Regions from separate parts of the Homo sapiens genome. Here region 1 is reported to be linked to region 2. The links are microRNA targets in miRTarBase. Many come from high-throughput screens and were not tested one by one. Region 2 holds a microRNA gene; the other region holds the end of a gene's coding sequence.

Region 1 (4,000 bases), not on the chromosome of region 2:
GACCCTGGCCTGCCGTTTTCAGTGGCATGGTGCCCTCTAGTGGTGAGAGTGAGGGTGGCCTCTGCTTGCTGCTCTGTGCTTCCTTAGATTTGGAAGTCTTAGAAATCCTCCAGTGGGCTGCCCTCTTTAAGGACGATGAGGGGGAGGAACTCAGCCAAGTCTGAGAGGGAGCTCGAAGAGAATTCAGATTCAGCGCCTTTCCCACAGACTTCTATGTCTATGTCAGGCTGCCCACCCTTGTTTTGGGGGTCCGGGGGTGGTTCAACCTGTCTTAACCTGTGTCTCTTTCTCCCTATACAGCAAAAAAAACGGAAAGCTCAGCCCCAGGACAGCCGTGGGGGCAGCAAGAAATATAAGGAGTTCAAGTTTTAGGTCCCCTCACACTAGCCCTTTTTTTGGCCCTACGTCTGGATGCCTGGGCTTCACACAAGAACCACCTCTCCCGCAGTTCCCAAGGACTTGTCATTTCATGTTCTTATTTTAGACCTGTTTTGTAAATAAAGCTGTTTCCCAAGGAAAGAGATGAATATTTAACACTCCTGAGCCTCCCTCATCTCCTTTTAGCCCCTTCTTGCAAAAGGACTAAAATAGTCTCTTTCTACAATCACTGGGCTGCCCCAGTAACCACGAACATAAACTGGGATTAGACGGCGCATTTGACTGGTGGTGACGCCAACCCCAGGCTGAAATCTGTGTTTCACCACTGCCCTGCTTTGTAGGAAGGCTTGGGGGAAGTACCTCTAGGTCTGGTTTGACCTTACTACTTTGTCCTTGGGGAGTAAAAATAGCCAGATTAGCGCCCTAGCGCGGCAGAGGAAGTAACAGTGGGCTTGGGAAGTAGGCCAGGGCAGGCCTTCCCAACTGACCTTGTGACCAGAAGTTCAAGTCCTTACCTGTGCGACAACATAGCTCAAAAGCTAAATTGTCTTGAGTCCATATGAACCCTTGGGTTCAAGCAACACTAGTCGCTGGGGTTTGGGATTTGTATGTGGGATGGGGGGACTTACTTTCTCCAGGTTGTAATCTGGTCCTGAGCAGCCTTTCTGACAGACTAGAGCAGGCTGGATCACTGGCTCCCATGGGCATTTGCCAGCCTGTGGGGAGGGTAGTCATGCGCTGCTGTTGTACTACTGTTGGTGTTTAAGTGCACCAGTGGAGGCGCTCACTTGCCGGAGGGTTCAAGATGGTCTCGGGGTTGTGGGGGGCATGATCCAGATAGGACGTGGCAGCTGAGCTAGGCCTTAGGAGGAATGGAATTTTAGAAATTTGGTAAGCAACAAAGCACTGGCACTCTAAAGAGGCATTTGGGGGGTAGGGAAAGAAGAGGAAGGTTGGCTCCAGATGGGCCCCGGGGTAGCTTGAGAATTCACTTATGCGAAGAACCTTCTGGACTCCAGGTCCCTGAGCCCCCGCTTGCCCTCGGGGCGGGAACTTCCCGGATCACAGGCACCCGCGGTGGCAGCGGGCCCCGGGTCTCCGCCGACCTCTCTGTTTGCCGGGGCCGCAGGGCAGGGCTAGGTCGGCAGGCGGAGAGCCGGCTTCCCCGGGCAGACCCCCACCGCTGGGGGCGGGTTCCGCATTGGCTCCGAAGACCCGAGGGGCCGAGGCGCGCTCCCGCGGCGGCCCCCTCCCTGCAGGGACCGAATCCCGGAAAAGCCGGGTTTCCGCTGGCGGGGCCGCGGCCGGCCGTGGGCGGGGAGGGGAGGAGCGGGGGCAGACTGGCAGCGGATTTGAGGGCAGGACCCGTGGGCGCGCGCTGGCCACAGACCACCCCTTCTACTCCGCGGGAGCGAGGGGCGCGCGTGGCTGCACGCAGGGCGCGAGCGCGCCCGGCCCGGCCCCTCCGCGCTGGGTGGGGCCGCGCGGGCCGGGCTCCCCGCCCCCTCCCGGACACGCCCACCCGTGTCGGCCTCGCGAGCCGCAACAGGCAGCGGCGGTCGAGCGCGAGGCCCGCGCGCCCAGAGGCCCCGCGCGTGCGTGCAGCTCGCTGGCTGCTCGCGCTCGGGCAGGCGGGCTGAGGAGGCTGCCGCGCCCCCGCCGCCGCCGCCGCGGGGGAAGCCTGGGAGCCAGATCGGCGTCGCCTCGGCCTCCGTAACCCCCGCCTAGCCGGGCCATGGCGGAACGCGGAGGGGCGGGCGGTGGTCCCGGAGGCGCCGGGGGCGGCAGCGGCCAGCGGGGATCCGGGGTCGCCCAGTCCCCTCAGCAGCCGCCGCCGCAGCAGCAGCAGCAGCAGCCGCCGCAGCAGCCGACGCCCCCCAAGCTGGCCCAGGCCACCTCGTCGTCCTCGTCCACCTCGGCGGCGGCTGCCTCCTCCTCGTCCTCGTCTACCTCCACCTCCATGGCCGTGGCGGTGGCCTCGGGCTCCGCGCCTCCCGGTGGCCCGGGGCCAGGCCGCACCCCCGCCCCGGTGCAGATGAACCTGTACGCCACCTGGGAGGTGGACCGGAGCTCGTCCAGCTGCGTGCCTAGGTGAGCGCGGGAGGGTGCGGCGGGGCGCCGGGGGAGCGGGGTGGCCGCCGGGGCCCAGCCCTCCCCGCCCCAGCGCCCATGGGGTCCCCGCCCTCCATCTCCCCGACTGTCCCGCGGCCCGGCCTGGCTCCAGCCAGGCCTCCCGGGACTCCTGCCACGGGGACCCGCCCTCTCCTGGCAGCCCCACCTTCTGCCTGGGGCCGGGACCACCCTTCTGTCCTCCCCGAGGGACCTTCTGGCCTCGGCCCCGGGCTTTCTCCGATTGGGCTGACCGAATCCGGCCTTCCTGGCAGTCAGTTTCCCTGAGTAAGTCACTCTCCTGCCTCGCCGGCGCCGGGAGCTGTACATACATGGATGTGGTATAGATCTCTTGATATTATTATTTCCCAATAGACTCAGCATGTGCCAAACTCGATTGTCACCTCTTGCAGGTAAAGCTCATATAATCACCCTAGGGGCTTCTCATTAGCCTTCGGCACACATGTTCATTTGAACTTCATATTACACACGTTCTGTCCCAAGCGCTAGGCTCTTAGTTTTGGGGCCCTATTTAATGTGTCCTCAAGTGTATTTTTACCTCCCCTCCCCCACTAAAACTGGTCCCAGAATCTCCCAGCTCTGCAGGGCTGTATGAAATTACTGCCTTGTTCCTAAATTCAATCCATTGCTCTCTGTCTGTTGGAACCATCTGGGGACTTTCCTTCCATTGGCAAAATAGGCCTGAGTTTGGGAATATTTTCTGTTTTTGTATTGGCAAGGCAGTCTGTCTCCAACTCTGGGGACAGGGTGCTGTGTCTTACAGTTTGCCACTTGAATAAGACGGTGTGTGGAGCTGGTTTCACCCAGAAAGCCCAGAGAAGTGCCTGGAGGTGTTCTTTTTTGTCACCTTGTAGCTGAGTTGATTCTGTTGCCTTGAAGTCTTGGGCTGTCTCCTCACTGTTGGTTAGGCAGACGGATGTGTAAGTCAGAGTTAGAGAGGATTGCTGGGCTCCCCCCTCGACTGTCTTCCTTTCCCCACCTTTATTCTGGATAATATTGTTTTATATATATATCCCAGATAGGAATGATGAGAGTACATCTTTCTGTTTCGCTCAGCTTAAGGAACAGAGCATTATCGCTTCTGTTGAAGCTCTCAGGGTGCCCCTTCCTGACTGTCTCCCCTCTTCCTTCTACAAAGGTAAACACTATTTTGAATTGTGTTTATCATTTCCCTTGTTAGAAAAAAATTAGTTTTACTACATAATGCATCTCTATATATTTTATAGTTCTGAATGTTCTTGAAGTTTGTGTACATGGTGTCATCCTGTATGTGTTCTGTGACTTGATTGGTTTTTTTATTTTTTTTTAAATCAGCATTAGGTTTGTGAGAATCATCCATGTGGTATGGTAGCCATAGTTTAAATATTTTCATGATGGGTAGTATTCTGTTGTGTGAATGAATATACCGTAATTCTCTTGAATATGTAGGTTGTTTCCTGTTTAACACCCACAGTAATGCACACATTTCCCCCCAGGACTCCTAGTGCTCTTG
Region 2 (4,150 bases):
CAGCAATGTTTTGTTTGTACACGCACTTTATTCTGGTGAGTGATTTTAAGTACCAAGTTTGCCTTAACTTTTCACTGCACTCATTTTTATCCTCATGGCTAAAATAGCTGTATTTGCTCCACAATCAAAATTAAAGGAGGGTGAGCTGATCGTTAGGAGGCTATAGTTGATCTGGCAAGAATTTCCATCTTTCTGTTCATAACGTTAAGTTGGGGGGTTGCTGGGAAGGGAAACAGAGAGAGTGTTCCCTTGGAGGGACTTTTCCAACTTTCATTGGTTTGAATCACCAACATATATTTTATTTTTAAGGAAGTATCATATTCATTGCAGAACCACCTCTAAATATTTTACTCCTGGCCATACCGTATTCTTTTCTATTGAAACATCTTTTTTGCCTCTCTGAGATCAGCTATGGCTTGGGGATTGCTAAGAACAAAATTCAAAGTTGCTTGTTTTTTGTTTTTTTTTTTCTTAAATCCACACTTCTTTGGGGGTTAGCGGGGGTGGGGAGGGAACAGCAACTGCTTAATGAAGTTTCTCACACAGAGGCAAAAAGAGAAAAGCCAAAATATATTCAGTGTATCCAGCAGTTCCATGCTGAATTTTTTTTTTCCTTATTGGTTGAGGGGGGTGTGTAGGAGGGTGGTGGGAAGGATCTGAAAAGAAGCTGTGATTCTTTGCTGAATTAATGATGACTTCTCACTGCAAAATGCTGATTTATAATCTCTTCACCATACTAGACTGTTTCCAGACTCAGAGGGGGGTTAAAGTTTGTTAAATGTATTCATAATTACATGCACAGTTTCAGACGGCTGAATATAAGTAATGCTTGTGCTGTTGCGAATGCTCACCATTAAAGCAGAAATTGTTTCACATTTAGCACTAAATTCTGTCTGATTTTGCACACTTAACAATTCAGTAATTTTAACATTCGGCTTCGTCGCCTCCATTATAGCTCAGTATCTTGGAGAAACAGTCAGTGTTCCGGCCTCGTTAATTCATGTAAAACACCCTATTTGTAGAAGTATCATTAAAGGCTAATTTGATGAGATATCCTTATTTAGCAAAGCAAATAGGATTTGACAGTCAGCTCCGGGTGGCGATTTAGCAAAGCACAAACACAATTCACAACGTGACAATTTCCCATCCACGCGCCTCGCTGGAATTGTGGACTCCTGAAAATTGTGCTGTTTCATCGTGTCCCATACTAAAGAGAAAGAACTCTGGAAGTAAAGAACTGTTTTTGCCAAGGCAGCACAAATGTCATCTGTGTGTACATGTGCCATGTCTTTCAAATCCTAAATCTTGTATCAAGAACGCTGTGTTCAAAGGTTTTTTCCAGGTACAGCTCACTTTTCTATTCCCTGCTATGTAGACTTAATTTAAATCTAGACTTGCAAATAACTTAGGATGTGTGAAAGTCTATATAGGTTACAACTATATAGGGTGTGTGTGTGTGTGTGTGTACACACAACTGAAGGTTAATGTTCTGCGACGGGGATTTATACACACTACCCTTGCTTTAGAGACTTCCCCTGAACGTATTATCCAGCCTTCTATAAAACGCCTGGCTGGGTGCAGTGGCTCATGCCTGTAATCCCAGCACTTTGGGAGGCTGAGGTGGGCGGATCACGAGGTCAGGAGATCGAGACCATCCTGGCTAACACGGTGAAACCCCGTCTCTACTAAAAATACAAAAAAATTAGCCGGGCGTGGTGGCGGGCGCCTGTAATCCCAGCTACTCGGGAGGCTGAGGCAGGAGAATCGCCTGAACCCGGGAAGCAGAGGTTGCAGTGAGCCAAGATCGCGCCACTGCACTCCAGCCTGGTCAGAGCCTGGACAGAGCGAGATTCTGTCCCCAAAAAACAAACAAACAAACAAACAAAACAAAACAGAACAAAAAGAACGCCTTCAACAGCAAAGAGTTGCAAAGAAATGTTGCAATTCCAGGTGGAAGCAAACAGCTGGTTTCTCCTAATTTAGCAAACGTAAAGACAAATCTAATGTCGTTACAATTCATCATTTCAGGAGCGCCTTATTTGGGGGCTTCAAACACTTTGCCACAATTGACATCCTACTAATTCCTTTCCAATCCAATACTGTCCCTTAAACCACTGTGGGGGTGGTCAGGGGGAATGTACTTTCTCCTCCTTGTATCGTTTTTCGGCCTCCCAAGGAGAGAAGCCCTTGGAAAACACAGTAGGTTCGGCAAACTGAGAACACACACTTATAAGAATACCGCCCTCGAAGGGACCTTTTAGTTTTATGGAAAGTAGCAAACCTCCCCCTCTTTCCCCGCCCCCCCGCCAGCCGGGTTTTGGACGCGCTCCCTGGGGGTGGTAGCTCTCTGCCCTCACCCTCCCGAGACTGCCGGGGCCTGAGTCCCTCGCTGTCCAGAATGACCCCAAAAGCGGGACTTTGAGGGCCAGTTGGATAAAACATAAACTCATCTCGCCCTCAAAACCCCGATTCTGAGACCACAGCCTCCAAAAGCCTCTTTTCCCAAGAAGTGAGTCCCCATTCACGGCTGACAGCACCGGGGCAGGCCGCCTTTGAGGCAAGAGTTTGGAGAACCGGGATCACTGAAGGAATCGTTACTGGGTGTTCCCTCAGGGCGGCGGTTCATCTCACCAAAATGCCAGGGGGTCGCTGTGGGAGGAGGGGACATTTGCCACACCATGGCTGAGGGCAAGAGGATCGCTTGATCCCGGGGTGTCTCTTCCCTCCCGGAGCAATCACCAATCTCGCCCAGCAAACAGGCCTAAAAGCTTCCCGGACAACACGAGGGGTGCCCCAAACGTCCCTTAGCAGCGGATAAATCGGGTGTCCGAGGTGCCTCGTACAGTTCCCCCCACCCCATCTCCAGCTAAATAAAGTTTGGTTATTTGTGTCCTTAATCGTCTCTCATTAAAGTCAAATTTGCTGCGCGCCCAAGTTGGGGGAAATGATTTCCATTTTAATAGCTTAATTAGCCTCTAGGTTCTGGAAAGGCCACTCCCCCACGCACCTTTTCTCCTCATTTTAACCCCCCTCCCTTTTTCACAACTTCTCCTAAAAATAAATTATAAATATGGATGTGTCCTCAGAGGACATAAGCGGCGCATTCCAACGCTCCGCTTGGTGGGGATTGGAAGCAAAGAGAAACCAGAAACGCCACTCCCCCCACCCCCAAATCAAAATGCCTTTTTCTTTTTTTTTCTAACTTCTTTTTCCTAACTTGGTGTTGTCTCGGGCACAGACACCCCGCTCCGCACCCCGGAACCTAGTTTTTTTGCCCCCGTCCTGCAGAAGCTAAAGCCAACGCGCCAGGGCTGCCTGCTTCTCGGGGGGAGGGAGCTGACAACTTTAGGGGGCGGCGGTAACTCTCTGGGGACGGTGGTTCCCGGCTAGTCCGGGATCCCCGGGGCCCGGCCCCCGCAGGCGCCGCCGCCCATGCCAGCGGGGCTCGGGCGCACGTGGAGCGGCGGGCGCGGCCGGCCTGCTCCGCGCGCGGCATTGAGATCGGGGTCACGCAGCGAGTCAGTTTCCCGAGCGGGCTTTCCGGGGTGGGGGCGGGGACGCGGACGCTCCACCGCCTCGTCAATTTCCAAGCCCAGGCACTAGGGAGGCTGGGGGCGGCCTCGCCCCCTTCCTACCTCCCGGCTTCACACGCCCCTCTGGGGAGCGGGGGAGGGGTCCGAGGGGGAGCCGGGGTGGCGGCAGCGGCGGCAATCGCAGCCCAGACAAGCGTCTCGCGCCGAGTCCCGAGAGAACCGCGCGCTCCCCCGCCGCCACCTCCCCTCTCCCGTTCCCATCCACCCCGCAGACAGCCGCCCCACACCCCTTCGGCCCTGGGGGCTTGGGCACCCACCTGCCGCGATCCCTGCCTTGGCTGGCGGAAGGTGCCAGGCGGGAAGAAGGGGAGCACTCACCGCCGCTGCCGCCTCCGGGGGTGCACGGGCCCCCCCACCCAGGGCTGCGCCTTCCCGGGCTCCGGGCAGGCGTGCGCCGGGCGGGGGGCGCCCCGCGGGCCCTGCAGCCTCCGCCTCGATTGGAGCCCAGCCTTAAATCCTCCACCGTGGAGAAGAAGGGTACTTCCAGAAAAAAAATCCGCCCCTCCCCAGACGAGATCCAAGTGATGGGCGGGGAGCGTAGAAAATCCTTTTCTGCA

Evidence for each region. Region 2 holds the annotated microRNA hsa-miR-193b-3p (AACUGGCCCUCAAAGUCCCGCU, at 2,410-2,431, opposite strand). A microRNA usually pairs through its seed, bases 2 to 8, with sites in the 3' UTR of a target mRNA and lowers its output. Matches are read on the target gene's strand: a 7mer-m8 pairs with bases 2 to 8, a 7mer-A1 pairs with bases 2 to 7 and ends in A, and an 8mer does both.
Region 1: the mRNA of SF3B2 is a reported target of hsa-miR-193b-3p. The part of its 3' UTR that is shown has no 7-base or 8-base seed match.

The regions. Positions count from the first base shown.
Region 1 is chr11:66,068,374-66,072,373 of GRCh38, forward strand. It overlaps SF3B2 (splicing factor 3b subunit 2), which reads left to right. Exons shown (of 22, transcript NM_006842.3): 22 at 301-935. The coding sequence ends at 372. It overlaps PACS1 (phosphofurin acidic cluster sorting protein 1), which reads left to right and starts at 1,899. Exons shown (of 24, transcript NM_018026.4): 1 at 1,899-2,469. The coding sequence starts at 2,114. RefSeq lists silencers at 2-51, 1,459-2,078, 2,089-2,138, 2,289-2,418, 2,429-2,578 and 1 more.
Region 2 is chr16:14,302,298-14,306,447 of GRCh38, reverse strand. MIR193B (microRNA 193b) reads right to left here and starts at 2,481; the gene lies at 2,399-2,481. The region is part of intron 1 of MIR193BHG (MIR193b-365a host gene); the gene reads right to left. RefSeq lists silencers at 2,341-2,390, 3,344-3,583, 3,489-3,649, 3,934-4,150.